Linked DNA regions of Homo sapiens: region 1 is linked to region 2. The links come from fine-mapping of genetic effects on gene expression. Tissue or cell type: liver. Region 2 holds a variant in brackets; the other region holds the start of a gene. All regions are shown on one strand. Distances are from middle to middle.

Region 1 (10,020 bases), 45 kb before region 2:
CTTCTCTCTCCATGCCAGGCCTGGGGCCTTTCCACGGCTGCTCATCACCGCCCCTCCCCGGCCCCCCAGCCCCCTTGATCCTGCAGACCTTCCACTTCCCAACACGATCATTAGTGGCCTGGGCACAGCCCAGAGCAGGGCGCCTCTGACCTCCTACCCAGGCCAGCGCCCCGTGCCCACCCACGGCGCTCGGCGCTTGGAGGGGCTGCTGGGGATATGATCGGAGGCCGGGGCCAAGGCACGGTTTTAGAGGTGGGCAGAGCGCCGGCCACGTCTGACCTGGACAGCGAGGTAGTCCCCCTGCCCGGGACCCTGAGGACAGTGGTCCCGAGGCCAGCTGCCTGGAAGGCAGGCGACTTTCAAAGGCCAGACCCCAGGTGGCCTGGAGCTGGGGTATGAGGACTGTGTGGGGTCGGGGTGCGGCTGGGGCTGCCACCAGCCACGCCCTTAACTGCTGCAGTTGTTGGGAAATGCACTTGGGGAGGACCCCACTTGAGCAGCCAGCTCCACTCCCCTCGATGGTTTTAGCCCTGGCTGGCTAAACCTTGCCACCTTTGGGCCGTGGAAATGCGGGAAGCGAAGGCCCAGGCAGTGAACTGTGCCACATGAGATGTGTGTGACCATCACCCGCTCATGGAGCGGGCATCCTCAAACAATTCTTTTAGCAGCCTCATAAAGGGCCCCTCCCCAGATGCTACGGACCTTCCCAGGCCAGGTGGATACCCAGGGCCACATCACAGGTACAGGGTCCCAGGTGGAAGGCAGGTGAGAGACCCCTTGCAGATGGGCTTCAGGGCGGGTGCTGCCTGTGCCAGGGGCTGCCAGCTCCCGTGCTGGGGCAAGGCCAGGATGGTAAGGTGGGGCCAGGCTCCGTGCTGCTCCTGGGGCTGCGACCTGGGGCTGCCACATCAACTTGGGAACACCCTGATTCCATCTGGCTGTGGCTGTCCTGGGCTGGAGGAGCCCACAGGGAAGGTAGGTTCCACGGTGGGGGAGAAGGAAACCAGGGATGTGGGAGACACTGTCATGCCTGAGGTTGAGGGGAGCAGGGGCCAGGACACCTACGGTGCTGGGGGAAGATGGGGGTCAAGGTATCCCAGGAAGATAATTGGGAACACCGAAGCTGGAGTGGAGGAGCTGTCCCTGGGACAGAGCGGCAGTGGCCCCCAGGAGCTCCTGAGAGCCCCGGAGGAAGTGGAGCGGCCCAGCCTCACCAGCATCCGGCACTTGGACGCCACCATCTCCCCCGCCCTCCACACACCCCTCCTGGCTCCCCGCCTCCCAGCCTGGCTGGTAAACACAGGGACACAGGAACAGGCAAAGCAGTGCGGCCTTGGATACAAAACTGTAAACACGAGTCTTTAAAATGACAGAGGCCTCCTTGGCCCCAAATCTGAGCCAGAGGCCCCCACCGAAGGAGCAGATCTCCGCCCACACTGCCCTCCCTTCCAACCCGGGCGGCCCAGCAGGCAGGGGCCGGATCACCTCTGCTCTGCTCCGGCCCAGGCCTCCCAAACAGACCCACGCGCTGGGGCGGGCTGGTGGAGCGGGGGCTGAGGATCCGCGGTCCGAGAGATTCCTGAGATGAAGAAGCGGCCGCGGGACCCCAGGCACGGGCACTCGAGGCACCTGTCCCTAGGGGAGCCCGCCCCCACCCCATCCCATGCAAACCGCGCGCCCCAAGCCAACCCGGTGTCTCTGCGCCCCAGGGGCGTGTCGGGGGCCGCGCGGGCCCTGTCACGTGTCCAGGGGGTCACGCGTGGGCGAGGACATGTGGGGGCGCCCAGGCGGGCCGTGCAGCGGCGGCGGCGGCGGCGGCACCGAGTTGCGCTGCGGGGGTGGCGGCTGCAGCTCCAGTGATAGCGCAGGCGGCGGGAAGTCGCGCACCTGGCGGCGGTACTCCAGGAAGGTGCAGGCCTTGGTGGCGAGCGCCACCACGTTTTTGCCGACGAAGATGGCCGAGACACGGCTGTCCCGGAACAGCGCCATGTTGGCGGCGCGCGCCAGCACGGCCACCACATTGACGGTGGCGAGGCTGAGCACCGGGTACAGCATCATCTTCTGCGGCGCTATGTGCTCGCCCTGCATGCTGACCTCGCTGAGCGCCACGCACGGCAGCACCAGCAGCAGCATGTAGCAGTAGAAGAAGGTGAGGCCCTCGGCCCACAGCGGCAGCCCGGAGCGCGGCGGCTCCCACAGGCTGGCCTGCATGTCCAGCAGGTCCAGCAGGTCCAGCGCCACCCAAAACAGGCGGCCGCGCAGGTCCTCGCGCTTGCGGAAGGTGCGCACGTACTCCATGCGGTCCAGCGCCACGAGCAGCAGGAACAGGCCGGGCACACACACAGACAGCAGCAGCGTCAGCGCCTTGCGCGCCACGGGGTCCGCCGCGCCGCGCCGCGCCGCCTTGTAGTTCTGGAAGATGAAGTAGAGCTTGATCTCCAGCACGAAGATGTAAAGGAACCACAGGATCATGGCGTAGCCGCGCTTGGCCGTGCGCACCTCGGCGCCCACCCACACGGCCACGTAGCGCAGCACCAGCAGGAAGCACACGTCGCCCACCAGCACGATGATGCACACGCCGATCTTGCGCGGGCCCTGGTTCTGCTCCACCAGGTACGCGTCCATGACGGCCATGCTGCCCATGATCACCAGCGTGGTCAGGCACACGTGGCGCCGGTCCGGGGGCGGCAGCACCATGGTCGGCCGCCGGGCCCCGGCCTGGGCGCGCGCGGCCCCCACGCCTGGCGGGACGAGGCCCTGCGGCGCTCAGCCAGCGGGCATGGCGCGACACGGCCCGGCGAGCTCGAAACCTGGGGAGACCGGAGGAGACAAGATCAGGGTGCGGGCTGGAGCGGCCTCCCCCAACACCCCCCGCCCCCCGCACCCCGCGTGCTTCCCACCAGGCGCGGTCTCCGCGCCGGGGCCCCGAGGCATCGCGCACGCCTGCGCCCATGCGCGAACCGGCGGCCGCGAACCACAGCGAGGCCTCCAGAGGGCGCTGCTGCCTCGCCAGAGCACCCGGGCCTCGTTCCCGCCGCCAGGAAGGAAACGGAACGGACGCGTTTTCTGCCCGCCGAGCTCGTTCCCGGAGCCCGGGGGGGTTTGTCACTGCTGGGCCCGCGCCGCCCTCCCTCCTGGCTCCGGCGGCCCGGACCCCACGCCCGCGCTGCTGGCCTCAGGCCGTTTCCGCGGAGTTCCGGGAATACCCTCTCCCCGCCGCCGCACTGGGCAGGGAGGCGGGCCTGCCCCTCCGCTCTTGGAGTACCCAAGGAGGCCTCGGCCCTCCCAGGCTTTCTGATCCCGGACCGAGAGCCACCCAGGTCCCGATGCATCCGTCCCACAAGCCTCTCCGAGCCTCCCCGCCCCTGCCCGGCAGCCCCCACGCCCCTCCTCCCTGCACGGGCAGGCTCGGTCTCCCCTCCTGTCCACCATCCTGGGCGCGTGGCCACTGCCTGCCCTGCTCCCCATGGCTCCGCATTGCCTTGGCGAGGTGTTGTCCCCCACCCTCTGCCCCGGCAGAGCCACCCTGCTTTGCTCCTCTGCGCCAGGGCGATGCCTGTGGCTGCCCTCGAATCTCGGGAAGCCCGTCCACCAAGGCCCGTCGGGCTTCCACAGGCCCCTGCACCTCTGTCACACACCTGGCACTGGTCCTCATGGCCGTGCTGTCGGAGTCCCCGCACCTGGGCCTGTGCACACCTGGGTGACAATGGAGGCCCGCACACCCGCACCCACCCCAAAGTCACTGACAGGCTTACTCCCAGCCAGCCCCTCACCCCCTCCACAGCCCCAGGCCTGGGGCTCCGTTTACTGCCGTGTCTAGACAAAGGCATAAAATTTAATGTCCCCGTGACAGTCGGGCGCTCGGACTGCCCTGGTGACACCGCAGGCCCCACCGATCCGGGAAAGCGTTGAACTCTGCACTCCCACCCCTGCCCCCACCCAGCACCCGCCGCCCAGGATCCCCACAGCCACACACAGGACACCCCCACCCCTCGGAGCTCTGACAGGTCGCGAGGAGGGTGCCTTGAGGGTCCTCAGCCCATGCCCCTGCCTCCAAGCCTCCCCGCGCTCTGGGTCCCACCGGGACACTCACCCGGTTTTCACGTCCACTGGATCTACACGTCTGACCCAGGAAGCCCTCTCTGGGCCCATTCCAGGCCCACCTGGGCCTCCCCTAGCTGCAGCCGCAGCCTGAGAATTTCCTCCCTCTCCGCGCGTGGCGGGGCCAAATAAATAGCGGGGGAGCCACGGCGCCGCTCACCCTTTCCGGCCGTGCCTCCAGCCCCTCCGCCCCACTACGCTGTCGCTCGATCCTCAGTCACTTGGCAGATGCGGGCCGAGGGGCTCTGCGCTGGCGAAGGGACGGACTCCAGCCCCTAGCGGAGCCCCTACCCCGGCAAGCCAGAGCCCGGCCCGGCCACCTCTCCGTAGGGACCTGGCCCCAGGCCCACCTGTCCTGGGTCTCCTGGGCCCCGGCCGAGGCCCCTCCTCCCCCCACGCCCCGCGGCTCAGACCTGGCACAGACTCTGGGGCCTCCAGGCCCTTCACTGCCCGGGCCCCGCAAGGACCCTCGCCCCATAACCACCCCTCGGAGCCCCCGGGAGGAGGGGCGGGAGGGGGCTGCTGTGCTCCCGCCGCGGGCCGGTGCAGAGCTTGGGCCGCTCCCAGCAGGCTGCGTCTCTGCTTGTCCCCCCGAGGCTTCCCCACGCAGGGCCGGGTCCCCGTCACCCCGCCGGCCCCAGGCCTCACCCCTGCCGCATCGGCCCCCGCCCCACCCCACAGTCCCCACGGCCCAGAGGTGCAGGGTCGCCCAGGCCCGCCGCCCCCTCCGCGGACGCAGCCGCGCACCCAGCCAGTCCCGCCCGCGCCCGCGCCTACCCCGCCGCCCGCAGATGCTGCGCCGCTCCCGGGCCCGCCCGCCCAGCCTCTGCCGCCACTGCCGGGGCCGCGCCGGCTCCTCCCGCCGCGCCCCTCCCCCGCCCGCGCGGCACCGCCCCCGACCCAGAGGCCCCGCCCCGCGCCCCTCGGCCCGCGAGCCCCGCCGGACCTGGGGACCTGGGAGCGCGGGGGTGCCGGTGCCCCGCCCCCTCCGCAGCGCCGGTTGCCACGGCGACAGCACCGCGCGGCGGCGCGCAGGACTGGTGGCTCTGGGGAGCGGGGCGCCCTCGCGCACCCCCAGGCGCGGAGTCCCGTCTCCACCCTCCTCACCCACCGCCCAGAATCCCAGGGTCCCGCCCAGTGCCCCCCGCGCCCTGAAACTCCGCTGCCGCCCCCTAGAGCGACCCCACTCAGCCGGACAGGCGCCCACCGGCCCAGGAGCTGACAGGGATGTAGGCGCGGGGCTGGCCTGGCCGCCGGGGCCCTCCGCGCCACCCTCTGTCCTCTTTGGGGAGAAACCCAGCCTTCCCAGGTTTCTTCTCAGGGCAGAGGAAAGGAATGATGAGCGGCCCCCACCTTCTTCTCCAGCCCGTCCAGGAGGCAAGCTAGGGTTTGGGGACTTGGGCTTCATTTTGTCACTGAGGTGGCACTAAGCCCCTCCCCCCACATCCTGTCCATCCCGTGTGAGCCAGAGAAGAACCCGAGGGCACCTTCTGCCTGCCTGCCCTCCTTCCCAGAACTGCTGTGACTTCCCTCTGACATAGGAGGAGACTGAGGGTCAGAGAGGTAAAGGGACACCAGATTTGGTGGAAAGACCAGAATTTGAGGCACCACCCAACTGGTAGTGAACTTCCAGATTCTCTTCCCGTATCCCCGGGCCTGGACTCAACACGGCCTGAAAGCCAGAAGAGGACAGAGAGCTCCAGAAGTTCTCTAGTCCTGGCACAAGGGGAGGAAAGAAAAAGGTCGCCTAATGCTCCCAGGGTGCAGGAGAATGCCCGGGGGGATGTTAGGGTTTGGGAGGATGGGGTTTTTTGGTAGTGGTTGTTTTTTTACTCTTCTCCATTCTCTGATGCCCCAGCCCCTAGGTATCCCACCAAAGCCATGACCAAGGCATAGGGTTTACAAGCACCTAAAACGCTGAGGCAGAAGAGCCTTCCTTTCCAGCCCCAGGAGATGTGGTCCCCTGTCGCTGGAGAGATGGTGGGCAGGGAGAAGCAGTAGAAAGCAATCCATGGGCTGGGCGTGGTGGCTCACACCTGTAATTCCAGCACTTTGGGAGGCCGATGTGGGCGGATTACCTGAGGTCGGGAGTTCGAGACCAGCCTGGCCAACATGGTGAAACCCCCATCTCTACTAAAAATATAAAAATTAGCCGGGCGTGGTGGCACACACCTGTAATCCCAGCTACTCGGGAGGCTGAAGCAGGAGAATTGCTTGAGTCCGGGAGATGGAGGTTGCAGTGAGCCGAGATCTTGCCACTGCACTCCAGCCTGGGCAACAGAGTGAGACTCTGTCTCAAAAAAAAAAAAAAAAAAAAAGCAACCCCAGGAAGTTGTGCAAGCCATACATGATGTACAAGTCTAAACCCTCATTCACATCCCAAAGGCTGAGAACTGAACAAAAGGACAGCCCACTGCCCACGTCCCACACTGGCCACTGGGCAGTGCATACGAAGGACAGATCTGAGTCCCACTGCAAAGGCTTTGAAAACAAAACCGACATGGAAGGCAGGACCCACAGGAGCCTATTTGAACTTGTGGCCTGAAACCAACTAGGTTGATTGCATGATAAAACAAAATGCCAACATTCTCAATGGGATTTAAATAAGACCAGTCTCATAACATAATGTCTAAATGTGCAGGAGACAATCTAAAATTACTCTGCATGTGAAGAATCAGGAAATCCAACCTGCAAGAGAAAAGACAATCAACAGCCGCCAATGCCAACATGACACAAAAACCCTCAACTAATTATCAGCAAATAGAATCAAGCAGCATTAAAAACACACACACACAAATACCCCAACCAAATGGAGGCTATCCCAGAAAGGCAAGGCTGGTTCAACATGTGAAAATAAATCGATGTGATCCACCATATTAGTCTCAAGAAGAAAACCATGTGATCATCTCAATCAATTCAAAGAAAGTATTTGACGGAATTCAACACTCATCCCTGATAAACACTCTCAGCAAACTAGAAAGCAAAGGGAACATGCTTAATCTCATAAAAGGAATCTACAAAAAGCAACAACAAAAACAACAGGCCAGGCATGGTGGCTCACCCCTGCAATCTCAACATTTTGGGAGGCCAGGAGTTCAAGACCAGCCCGGGCAACATGGAGAGATTCCATATCTGTTATTTTTAATTAAAAAAAAAATTAGGCCAGGCACTGTGGCTCATGCCTCTAATACCAGCATTTTGGGAGGCCAAAGTGGGCGGATTGCTTGAGCTTGAGTTCAAGACCAGCCTGGGAAACATGGTGAAACCCTGTCTCTACAAAAAATACAAAACAATCTGGCCGGATGTGGTGGCTCACGCCTGTAATCCCAGCACTTTGGGAGGCCAAGGCAGGCAGATCACCTGAGCTCAGGAGTTCTATGCCAGCCTGGGCAACATGGCGAAACACCATCTCTACTTAAAACACACACACACACACACACACATTAGCAGGGTACAGTGACACACACCTGTAATCCCAGCTACTCAGGAGGCTGAGGCATGAGAATCGCTTGAACTTGGGAGGCAGAGGTTGCAGTGAACTAAGATCGCACCACTGCACTCCAGTGTGGGCAACAGAGGAAGACCCTGTCCAAAAAAGAAAAAAAAAAAAAAAAAAAACCTCTGCATCTAATGTGATACTTAATAATGAAGGACTAAATGCTGAGCCCTAAGATCAGGAACAAGGTAAAGATGTCCACTCTATTCACTCCTGTTCCACAGTGTACTGGCAGTCCTAACCCATGCAATAAAACCAGAAAAATAAAAGGCATACAGATTAGAAAGGAAGAAATAAAGATGTCCCTATCCATAAATAACATAAAAGTCTATGTCGAAAATCCCAAGAATTTTACCAACAAAAAAGTCAGAATACTAATAAGTGAGTTTTGCAAGGTTGCAGGATGAAAACACAGAACTCAGTCCTGTTTCTATATATTAGCAATGAACAATTGAAAACCAAAATTTTTAAAAGCAATGCTATTTAAAATGGTCCCCCAGTAAATTTATTCGTTTGGTATTAATCTAACAAGACTGGTACAGGATTTGTATACTGAAAACTACCAAATGCTGATAAAAGAAATCAAAGAAGGCCTAAATATGTGAGAGGCATGCTGTGTTCCTGAATTAGAACAAATATAGTTAAGATACCAATTCTCTCCAAAACGACTACGGATTTAATGCAATTTCAATTAAAATTCCTGTCGGAAATTTTATAGGTATAGAAAACCTTGTTCTGAAATGTATATAGAAATGAAAAGCAACTAGTTGCCAAAATAATTCTGAAAAAGAAGGGAAAAAGTTGGAGGGTTCTCACGAATGGATGTTTTTGTTGTTGTTGTTTTTGTTTTTTTGGGTTTTTTTTTTTTTTGAGACTGAGTCTCGCTCTGTAGCCCAGGCTGGAGTGCAGTGGCATGATCTTGGCTCACTGGAAGCTCTGCCTCCTGGGTTCATGCCATTCTCCTGCCTCAGCCTCCCGAGTAGCTGGGACTACAGGCGGCCGCCACCACGCCCGGCTAATTTTTTGTATTTTTAGTAGAGACGGAGTTTCACTGTGTTAGCCAAGATGATCTCGATCTCCTGACCTCGTGATCCACCCACCTCAGCCTCCCAAAGTGCTGGGATTACAGGTGTGAGCCACCGTGCCCAGCCATCACTAATGGATGTTAACTCACCATAAAGCTAAAGCAATTGAGACAGGCTGAATTGGCAGAGGGTCAGCCGACAGATCAATGGAACAAGTGCACCCACACAAGCATGGCCATTGATTCTTTAACAGATTTATTGAAATATAATTCAAATACCATAAAATTCATCCATTTAAAGGGTACAATTCAGGCCAGGCGCAGTGGCTCACACTTGTAATCCCAGCACCTTGGGAGGCCGAGGCAGGTGATCACCTGAGGTCAGGAGTTCAAGACCAGCCTGGCCAACACGGTGAAACCTCACCTCTACTAAAAACACACACACACACACACACAAAAATTAGCCAGGCGTGATGACCCACGCCTGTAGTCCCAGCTACTTGGGAGGCTAAGGCAAGAGAATCGCTTGAACCCAGGAGACGGAGGTTGCAGTGAGCCGAGATCATGCCACTGCACGCCAGCCTGGGCAACAGAGCAAGACTCTGTCTCAAAATAAATAAATAAATAAATAAAGTGTACAATTCAGCCAGGCACAGTGGCTCACTCCTGTAATCCCAGCGCTTTGGGAGGCCAGGCAGGAGAACTGCTTGATCCCAAGAGTTCGATGCCAACCTAGGTAACATAGCAATACCTCGTCTCTACAAAAAACACAAAGGGTAGGTGGGCATGGTGGCGCATGCCTGTAGTCACAGCTATTTGGGGGGCTGAGGTGGGAGGATCGCTTGAACCTGGGAGGTTGAGGCTACAGTGAGCCGTGGGAGCTGGGGCAACAGAGTGAGACTCTGTCTCCAAAAGCAAAAGTGTACAGTCTGGGCACAGTGGCTCACGCCTGTGATCCCAGCACTTTGGGAGTCCAAGGAGGGCAGATGACTTGAGGTCAGGAGTTCGAGATCAGCCTGGCCAGCATGGTGAAACCTCGTCTCTACTAAAATACAAAAATTAGCTGGGCGTGGTGGCGCACACTTGTAATCCCAGCTGCTTGGGAGGCTGAGGCAGAAGGAGCCTAGCTTGAACCCAGGAGGCGGAGGTTGTAGTGAGCCGAGATGGCACCACTGCACTCCAGCCTGGGTGACAGAGCAAGATAAGAAGGAGAGAGACAGAGAGAGAGAGAGAGAGGGAGGCAGGGAGGGAGGGAGGGAGAGAGAGGGAGAGGGAGAGGGAGGGAGGGAGGGAGAGAGAGGGAGAGAGAGAAAGAAAGAAAGAAAGAAAGAAAGAAAGAAAGAAAGAAAGAAAGAAAGAAAGAAAGAAAGAGGAAGGAAAGGAAAGAGAGAGGAAGGGA
Region 2 (10,020 bases):
CACTAAAATGCAAAGAGATGCAAAGCAGCCCGCGCGCTGATCCTGCCCTCCCCAGGACGGAGGGTCGGGGACAATTGCCGGAGAGCCCCCGCTGTTGCCCCCCACCGAGGAACCCACTCTGACCTTCCATCCCACGCAGGGTTACGAGGCCGCCCCTGTCAGTCCCCTCACTCCCAAGGGACGTCCCCGCCTCTGCTAGCTCCCCTGACCTCCGCTGCTCTGGGAGGTCCATCGGACCGCAGCGGGAACATCCCCGGGGAATTCAAAAGCGGGGACTCCCAGAGAGGGGAGCTGTAGCTTGAGGACCGATCGGCTGCGGGGGCTGCGGGGGCTGGGGTTTCGGCCGGCAAAAGAGAGTTCAGCCACCCCCAGGCCGGCTCGGAGATGCCCGGACCGGGCGCAGGGAGGGGCCCTTATCTCTGCGGGTAGCGCCCAGGGCGGCCAGAGCGGTCCAAGTACGCTGCAAAGTTGAGGCGGAGGATGGTCCCGGTGCCAGGCGGAGTCTGTCCCGCCTCACCCGCCCCCCAGATTCAGGAGGGCCAAGGGGGCTGCGCTGGCCTCGGGCTTTGGGGTCAGCCCTCTAGCTGACTGGCCAGCCTCAGGAAGGGAGCCCAGGTCACTGTCAGCCCCCTCTCCTGTCACTGAGCAGGGGAGCCCTCTCTCTGCAGGCCCTTCACCTCCATGCTGCATGGAGCTCCCTGGGAGCTCCCACAGCACAAGGGCGGTGCTGCCCTTCCTCCCCACCCACCATCCCTCCTGTCAGCCATGTTAACCAGCGTCCTTATCTCCCCTCGATCTCCACTGGGCCTGTGCTGGCCCTGTCCCCGCTGGGGGCGCTGGAGACCATCCTCCTGGGCCCCAGGAGCCGCTGGCCTACCGCTGTCGGGCCCTGAGCCCTAACTGCACCTGTGATCCCAACCTCACTTTCCCTGAATCCTACCGCACCCCTGTCGGCACCTCGAGGCCTGCACTTAGAGGAAGAGAAGCCGCCTGCCCTGCCCTGTCTGCCACCAGTCCCCAGCTTGGGGAGAGGGCAGGGGCAGCAGGGCTGTAGGACGGCCAAGGCACAGGCGTCTGGCACAGAGGCCACACTCCAGAGAGCCCCACACCAGCACACCCAGCCCAAGGCCACATCCTGCTTGCCCTCCTCCTGGCGCCCCTCTAAGGCCACAGTTCTGTCCCCCGACTGGGGCTAAGTCCTGGGGTCTGATAGGACATTCCACAGGGGCCCATTGGAGCCCTCCTCATCCCCCATTCTGAGACCTCAGAGATAAGGTTTCCAGAGTAGGGGTGCGCTCCTGTCCTGCAAACTTGGAACCCCCACTCTCCAGCCCATGAGCCTTGAAACCCACTCTGAGGTCTGGGCCCACCTGCCATCTCCACTGAGTGTGGGGCATCGTGGGACAAACCTGCAGACAAGCAGAGGGAGAGGCAGAGGCACCAAGAAGGGGGAGAGGCCAGGGGAGCCCGGACAGTATTGGGGAGGCCGGGGGCTCTGTCACTGCACTTTCCCTGGGGCGTGCGCTGCCCCCAAGCCCCAGGGTGCCCAGCACCGCTGTCCACACCCCCACCAGGATGACGTGCTCCGGGTGCAGAGGTGCAGGGCAAGTGCCTGATGCACACGTGTGTGCCTGGTGCCCGTGGACATACCCGTATGGGTGTGTCCATCAGGGGTCTCTGGGGTCCCCGCGAGCATGTGTGTGGTCCCTCTCGCAGTTGTCCGCCCATATTTCTGTCAAGCCTCCTCCCCAGCCCATCCCAGCTCCTGGCCCGGTACCTTGCAGCTCATGTACGGACATTAGCCAGGGCAGATAGGGACAATGACCCAGTCCTTGTCCTCCCCTCTACCCGCCCCCAGGGATGGTCCCTTCCCCCACACTCTGGACTCCAACCCACCCTGCCCATGGAGGAGCCCCTCCTTGAAAACCAGGGTGATGAGTCCATTCCTGGCCTTCCCTGCTGTTGCTTCCTGTCACCATGGTCACGGGTGGGGTGGGGGGCAGGATGCCCTCGCCGTGGGGCCACGCCTTCTGTGTTGGCTCACAGCAGTTTTTCCACTCAACTCAGACACCCACACTCACAGATACACACAGACACATGCACAGATACACACGCACACCCTCACTGACACAGACATAACACAGAGACACACACACAGTCACATACACACGATCCCTGGAACCCTTCCTAAACTTCAGCCACAGACTGACATGCCCCTCAGACCCCCTTTCTCCTGTGCTCCCCATCTACCCTGTGCTCTGGGGGTGGGGACCCCTCATCAGCTGCAGGACCCCAGCTTCCAGCTCCTTTCTCCACCCACACTCCGTGTTCAGGCCATCCCACCCCCAACGCCCACCTCCATCTGAGCAGGTCAGGGTCCTGCCGGCTTCCGGGACACACTGCCCCCGACCAGCCCCAGCCCAGTCACTAGGCCTCAGGCTTTGTCAGCTCTCACCTGGCCGGGGATGCACCTAGGACAGGGCACTGACCTCGTCCATGGGGCCAGCCTGACTCAGGCCCACTGGGCTGGCTGGAAACCCCAGCCCCTGTACCTCTCAGCCCACTCTGCAGGGTGCTGGTGGCATTTGTTTCAGGAACAAACAGAGGACAGAGTGGTCGGGGCAGGGACTCGGAGCTCCGCAGCTGCTCGCCCCAGGCTGCCTCTATGCCCAGAACATTCCACCCTGCACCTGGACAGCAAGAGGGCCCTAGACCCGGGGGTGGCGGGGGCTGCTGCAGTGTTCCGGGTGCATCTTGGAGGCCGCCTCTGTCTGCTCAGCCCGCCCTCTGCACACATCCCTGCGCCCTGGCCTGCTCCTGCTGGCCCTCTGGCTGAAGCCCACAGGGGCTGGGGTGCGGCAGCCTGCAGCCAGGCCTGGGCTCCAGGAACCAGGGTAACCCAGGAGGCAGGGCTGGGCCCCACTGTCCCTGAGGAATCCCACCGTCCACCCCTCTAGGAACATTTTGCTCCTCTGGGCCCACAGCCCCTTCCTCTGCAGACTCAGCTTGGGGACTTGCCTTGAGATGCCCCTCCTTGTCCTTGGAGCCCTCCCCACCACCTCCCCTTGCCCCATGCCCAGGCTGAGAGTGTGGGCAGGTGTGAGGTGCCCTCCCGGGGCTGCAGGCCAGCCAGGCCTGTCCTGGATGCTCTGCAACCAGGTGCCCTGCACTGCCAACATGCATGCCAGGACAGCGCGGAGCCGGCCACGCCCAGCTCAGGCCTCCCCAGGGCCCACCTCCCTGCCCCTCCCTCTCGGCCCAGCTGAGTCTCAGACACTCCCAAGTTCCCAGGGTCTATTTTCAGCTGCTTGTCTCCCGGGACCCCCTGTCTGGCCTGTGGTCTGGCCCCGGTTGGCCGTGCTGGGCTCAGTGGCCATTCCTGCCCTGGGCAGACCTGGCATGGGGCTGGCATGGGACAGGCTTACCAGACAGGCACCTCCTGTCCTCCAGGCCTCACCTCCAGCCCCGAGCAGGTGGGAAGGCTGCGCAGTTCCTCCTCTCCCAGAGCAGACGTGGCAAGGTGTGGAAAGAGGGAAGAAGGGGGCTCCCTCAGCCAGCCCTGCCCCCAGCGGGGCTGCACCCCTGCCTGGCTTCCACAGACTGGCCAGATGGGGTGCCCCTGACCTCCCTCCCCTCTCTTGAGGCTGGGCCTAGTACCCAGCATCCTACAGCCATAGCCCAGGAATTCCAGAGGCTGGAATTCCAGCCTCCCCGCCTGGCAGCTGGACCCCACATCCCCACCGGAAGCCCATCAGGCGCTGGGAAAAGTGCTGCCCATACCTGGCCGTCCTGGTCCTCCAGCCTGCCCTTGCCTGTGCCCAGCCCTCCACGGTCCAGAGCTAGGGGCCCACGGCACTGGGTGATTTCCTCACATCCACCTCTCAGGCTACCGCCGGCCCCCAATAAGCTGGACCCAGGGCCGGGAGGGAGGTGTGCCCCACCAAGTCCTGTGGAGGGTCAGGGTCAGGGGCGCTAGTCCCAGCTGTGTGGAGTCCGAAGGGGTCCAGGAATTAGGGAAGACCCTGGGAGCAGGGGTACCCAGGGCCGATGCTGCGGTCACTGGCTGGGCAGGGCCTGGAGGAAGGGTGCTGGGGGTCCCGGGCAGGGGCCAGAAGAAGTGGAGACAGGGGTAGCTGCAGGCTGAGCTGGCCCCACAAAGATGCCTGGCTGGGGGCACCAGTGAGGGCCCCACCAGCCCAGGTTGGAGTGGGGGATACCTTGGAGGGACCTGGCCAGGAGACACGGGAAGACTGGACAGTGGGGGTACAGACGGGGAGCGGCACAGCTCGGTTCAACAGAGCGCCGGGGTGTGAGCTTAGCCCCATGGGGCACCAGGGCCTTGTGGATCCCTGGACTTGGTTCCCAGGGGTTCTGAAGGGGAGGGATGGAGCAGATAGCATTTCAGAGCCGCCTCACTGGCCAGGCATAGGTCCAAGTAGAAGAGAGTGAAGGTTGAGGGCAGAGCAGCCCCCAAGGCAGGGACAGAGAAGCAGGCACGCCCAAAGGCAGAAGAGCCCATTCCAGATTCCCCTCCCTTTTAGGGGATATCTGGGTCTGTGGGCACCCAAGGGAGCACCTGGCTGGCAGGCGGCTGGGAGGGCATAGCTTCCTGGAGCTGGAGACACCAAGCGAGCCCTGTTAGTGCCGTGGGCACCCAGCCAACCCCAGCAACACCGCCTAGCGACGCAGTCCAGACAAACAGTAGCAACAACCGCCCCGGTTTCCATGACAATGACTTGGAAACAAACACGGCAGGCAGGCGTCATCCTCAAACCGGCCCCGCAGGAAATGGTCCTGCCCCAGCCAGACCTGGGGTCGGGGGTGCTGCTGTCCCTGGCGGGGTCAGGGGCTGATCTCTGGAGGAGACCCCTTACCCACATCATCCCCGCAACCGACCCTGGAAGGTCTTCTGGCACACAAATCCCCCACCGCCGCCCAGGTTTTAGAGAAGGGCACACCACCCACCACTCTCCTCACGACATAGTTTCCACTGGAGGCTCCCAAGGGAGGGGGGTCCAGCTGAGCCCTCCAGTCCCCCCCCCGCCCCCCGCCCCGCCAAGCTGAAAGCAGGAATTTCCCATGCAACCCTGGGAGCCCGCAGCAAGGGCGGAGACGGGCACTCCGGAAATTCTCAGTTCTCCCGAAACAACCCCCCAACACACACAAGGAAGCCTGGGCCTGGCAGGAGGGGATGAGAAGGGGAACCATCCCAGCCTCTCCTGTGAGCAGGGGTCTGGAACCTGCCTGATCCTCCCCTCTGCCTGGGGTTGGGGACTGGCCGTCCCTTCCGCAACGTCAGGCCCCGGGGGTTTTGGCTGAATTCCAGGTGGGAGGAGACCGCACTGGGTGCCTGGCTGGAGGGCAGCTGTGGTACGGCTGGACCCCGGAGCCAGCCCAGGCCCCGCCAGGACATGGATGGCTGCTCTCGGGACAATGGGCTCAGCATCCAGGCTCAGCTCCGTCTGAGCCCATGGGCTGGAGGGTGGCCAGGCAGGGAGCTGTGCCAACGGCTGGGAGCAGGGAAGAGGCGTAAAGCCCCGGCCACCCTGTAGCACTGGGGACAGGGGCCTGGAGGTGGCCAGGTCTGAGTGCCCCTCACTGAAGGAAGGGCCAAGGCAACTTCGGTGTGGTGCCAGGAGCAGAGGAGCATAAACCAAGGTGGGAAGTCCAGATGGCGCCAGGACAGGGCTCAGCCACTGGGGAAGGTCTCCACGTTTCTGCTCTGTGCTGCCAGAATGGGACAGTGCGCCCTCTAGTGGGCACCCGAGGAGTGGCGCACAGCAAAGGCGGGGCGCGGGGGAGGGGAGAGCTCCTTGGAGCCGCCAGCGCCCCTGGCTGAAAGGGCAGAGCCTGGACCATGAAGACGCCAGGGGCGAGTCGGTCATCACTAAAACCTTCACCAGAACACTTGGGCAGGGATTCTGTCCCTGGGCCACACCCAAGGCAGGCCTGTCCACAAAAGCCTGTCCATCACCCTATGGACAAAAGCTGGAAACAGCCACGCTGAGCCTCTCCAGTCCTTGCTCTGACCAGAGCCCCCAAACCCTCCTGCGCATCCCAGTCCAGTCTGGGGCTGCCAGAGACCTCTGTCCCACCCG[A/C]CCTTCGCCGGCTTCCCCATTCTCTGCCCAGGACCCCTCCTCTGGTCCCCGGCCCCCTTCCCTCCTCAGCCACACTCTGCTCTCAGGGCGGACCCCTCCTGCGCTTGCCAGGGTCCACACACCCAGGCAGCTCCGGGTTCTCAGGCCTGCTGTTGGTATTTTCAGGGTTCTAGGTTCAACTTTTCTCCAAGGCTCTGTCCTCCATGGACCCCACCCTCACCTGACCCTGGCCAGGACCCTGGCCCCGGAATGCCTCCCACCTTCCTTACCTCCCCACAGCCTGGCGTTCTTACTGCCTCCCCATCTGGGTGGGCACCACCACCCAAACCGGAGACCACGCTCCCCGCCCCCATCCCTCCCTCCTGCTCAGAAACATCCCAGGGCCCCACCTCCCACTATGACCCCCAGGAGAAGAGCCCACCCCCACTAGCAGCCAGGCCCAGGGGTGTTGGCTGGGAGCACGCATGGACCGGAGAAAGGGACCCTGGTCTGGGATTTGCATCCATCCCACAAGCAGAGACAATCCTGCAATCCTCAAACCGTTTATTGACAGCACAAGGCTCAACAGCAGGTGAGCCACGTGAGGGTGGCGAGCGCTTGCGAGGCAGTGTGGGCACCAGGCAGGGGATCCCGGAGGGAAGCCCTCTGCCAGGGACATGGTGAGGGCGTGGCCATCACCCACGAAGGGAGCATAAATAACACTGGCAGGTGGGTGGGCAGCAGGAGAGGGAGAGCGGACAGCGCCACGGGGACACGCAGGGTCGGCGGGAAAATGCTGGGACAGGGTCACACGGGGATTCGGACACGCAGACACAGAAGGGATCATGGGACGCCCAGAGGATGCCAGAGGGGGCAGACACACCAGAGACTCGGGGATGGGCATGGTGCTCTGCCCGTGGCTGCCCCTCCTCCAATACTCGCCCTGGGCTTGCAGGCAGGACTGGGCGGCTGAGCACTCTCCCAGCAGAGCCAAGCAGGGGGGCCCCTGCAGGGTCTGGGGCGCAGGTGAGCCCACATCATGAGAGCCGCTGTAGCCTAGGGCTGGACCTTGCCTTCGGGGTCCCGGTCATAGATGTAGCTGCCCACCGCACCGGTGTTCACTCCTGTGGAGGGAGGCCGCTGGGGTGGGTCGGGGGAACAGTGGAGGGAAGGGGAGGGCAGGGAAGACATCGTGGACCACCCTGGCTACACTCACCCTTGGGTCCGAAGAGGATTCCATAGCAGGGCTTGTGGCAGTAGGGCTGGCCGTCGTGCTGGGGCAGAAGGTGGGTGCTGAGGGAGGAGTCCACAGACTCCCCCGACCCATCACCTGGAGGCTTCCAGAACGTGCAGGCCGGCTCGCCGTGGGGGAGAGGGCAGCGCAGCTCCCAGAAGCACCACCCCCCATCCCCTCTAGGCGCGCCTCTCACCCTCATCCCCCCGACCCCGCGCCCCTGCCCGGCCCCCAAGCCCCGTTGCACTCCCCTCACCTCCGCGTGCCCGCCGGGGGTCAGTGTCTTCCCGCAGCGCTCGCAGCGCAGGCAGGGCCGGTGCCAATCCTTGCCCAGAGACGTCACCTTCTCAGCTGGAAAGGGGGAGGAGTGAGGCCGAGCCCCGGGGCGGGGGCGGGGGCGGGGGTCCGGGGCCCGGGCGCGCACTCACCGAAGTACACCTTCTTGCTGCAGCGCGGGCACGTGTTGGGCTCCCCGGTGAAAGTGGTGACACTGGAGGCTGTGGGGCGCACGAGTCAGGGCGGGGCGGGGCCGGGGGTGCCCACAACCCCCAGCCCCAGCCCGCGCGTGCCCACAACCCCCAGCCCCAGCCCGCGCCCAGCCCACCTCTGCTGGGCCCCTTCGGGGGGCCGCTCGCCTTCCGCTCCTCTGCTCGGGCCGCGGGGACCTCGATGGGGCCGGTGACCTGCGGCCCCTCCGCCAGGGGCTTCTCGTAGATGTAGGAGCCCGCGCCCCCGATGTTCACGCCTGCGGGTGGGGGTACGTGGGGCGGGGGTACGTGGGGTGGGGGCCGCGGCCACCGGGCATCTCAGAAAACGGCCCGCTGGGGACTGGGGGGCACTAGGCTTTCCAGGGTGGCAGGGACTCTGGGCGGGGATCCACGGCGGCCGGGACCCCCAGCCCTCCCCAGCGCCAGCGCCACGCCCCTCCCAGCAGGTCCCAGGGCAGGCCGAGGGCAGCCGGAGCTCACCTTTGGGTCCGAACAGGGTGGCGTAGCACGGCTTGTGGCAGAACGGCTTCCCGTCATGCTGCGCAGAGGGGCGCGGGTCAGGACCCTGCCTGAGGGTGGCGGGAGTCGCGACCCCCGCCCCCGCCCGCGCCGCGCAGTGGGGCTCACCTCGGCGTGGCCCCCGGGCGTCAGCGTCTTGCTGCAGCGCTCGCACTTGAGGCAGAACTTGTGCCAGTCCTTCCCCAGGGAGCTCACCTTCTCGGCTGAGCGGGAGGGGCGGCAGGGGGGTCAGGGCCGGGGCGCGCCCCGCACCCCCTCCGCCCCCACCTGGCAGCCACCACCCCCACGCGCTCCGGGGGTCCCCACTTTCAGGAGGTCTCCCAGGCGCCTTCCTTCCACCTGGCGGGCCCTGCCCCTCCTTCTGAGACCCGGAGGAGCCCGTCGCCCCCAGGCCCTGTTCTCCCTCTGGGTCTCAGCGCCCCCAGCCCTGGAACCCCGCTAGAGCCGCCTTTGAGAAGGGGCCCGGGGCTGCCCTGTTAGTCCCCTCAGTGCCTGCGGTGAAGGGGCCTGTGCTCGAGCCTGCCCGCGCTCCAACACCTGCCCGCGCTCCAACACCTGCCCGCGCTCCAACACCTGCCCGCGCTCCAACACCTGCCCGCGCTCCAACACCTGCCTCCCGGACACCCGCCTCACACCCGCCTCCCCCACACGCCCGCCTCCCCCCACAAATCTGCCTCCTCCCACACACCTTCCTCTCACACACACACCCGCCTCCCCCACACGCCCGCCTCCACACACCCGCTTCCCCCCACACACACCCGCTTCCTCAGACACACACCCGCTTCCCCCCACACACCTGCCTCCCCCCACACATATGCATCTCCCCCACCTGTCATTCCCTCAAACACTTCTCTTACACTCACACACCTGCCTCTGCAGTGCACCTGCTTCAACACATGCTGCTCTCCCTCTCACACCTGCCTCGCACTGACACGCCCCTGATCCCCACCAACTGGGCCCTGATGGGGCTGGCAGCACCCCGCTGCTGAGTCAAAGGTGCAGCCCCAGAACCTCCAGCTCCCTCATGGGAAGGCCAGGCCCCGTCCCCGTGGGTCCTCCAGGCGGGACCCTCATCTGTCTGTGGATTCCTCGTCCTAAACCCTGAGCTCTCCCCCCGCCGTAATGCCCCTGGCTGCCACTGGCATGGAAGATCTGAGGGCAGCTGCTGAGGGTCCGGGACCCTCTGCCACTGCCTCCCACCCCCACACTGGGGCTACTGGACTGCTTCCCAGTGGATGGAAGCAGGGGCCTCCCTAGGGAGCCAGGCAGGAAGAGGTGGGGAGGGGCAGGAAGGGCCCAGCAGAGCCGGAATTCTGAAGGGAAGGGGACAAGCTGCAGGCCCTGGGGGGAGGGAGCATGCAGGCTGGGCCCACCCTGCCCGGCAGAATCTGGCCAAGCCCCTCAGGTGGCCGAGGACCAGTGGCTCTCCCAGCTCCCTTTCTCAGCAAGTGGCCCAGCCCCCTTTGTCTGGCAGATATCGGGGAGGGGCATCTGGCTAGGGCGAAGCCCACTCTGAGAGGCCCAAGGGTGCTGCTCCTGGCAGTGAGATGGGATCCCCCAGGTGGCCTACTAGGTAGAGGGCTGTGAATACTGGCTCTCCGTGGCCCTGGTACAACCCTCTGGGCATGGCCAGGGCCAGCCTCCAGGACACCAGCCCAACCACAAGGCTGCACCAGCTTAGAGCCCTCTGACCAGAACCACT

Evidence for each region. PIP is the estimated chance that this variant, and not a neighbour inherited with it, causes the effect.
Region 1: it holds the start of TMEM121, and the variant in region 2 is fine-mapped to the expression of TMEM121 in liver (GTEx, PIP above 0.99).

The regions. Positions count from the first base shown.
Region 1 is chr14:105,521,512-105,531,531 of GRCh38, reverse strand. It overlaps TMEM121 (transmembrane protein 121), which reads right to left and starts at 4,949. Exons shown (of 2, transcript NM_025268.4): 1 at 4,879-4,949; 2 at 1,334-2,810. The coding sequence starts at 2,697. The coding sequence ends at 1,738. RefSeq lists a silencer at 3,082-3,291.
Region 2 is chr14:105,476,767-105,486,786 of GRCh38, reverse strand. It overlaps CRIP2 (cysteine rich protein 2), which reads right to left. Exons shown (of 8, transcript NM_001312.4): 2 at 8,427-8,521; 3 at 8,280-8,337; 4 at 7,916-8,056; 5 at 7,740-7,808; 6 at 7,568-7,662; 7 at 7,294-7,351; 8 at 6,625-7,201. The coding sequence ends at 7,134. Among named protein-coding and RNA genes, the nearest start is that of CRIP1, 5.1 kb to the left of the region's middle. RefSeq lists enhancers at 4,371-4,690, 5,471-5,580, 5,249-5,970 and a silencer at 5,711-5,860. The variant A/C (reference allele first, on the strand shown) is at 6,099.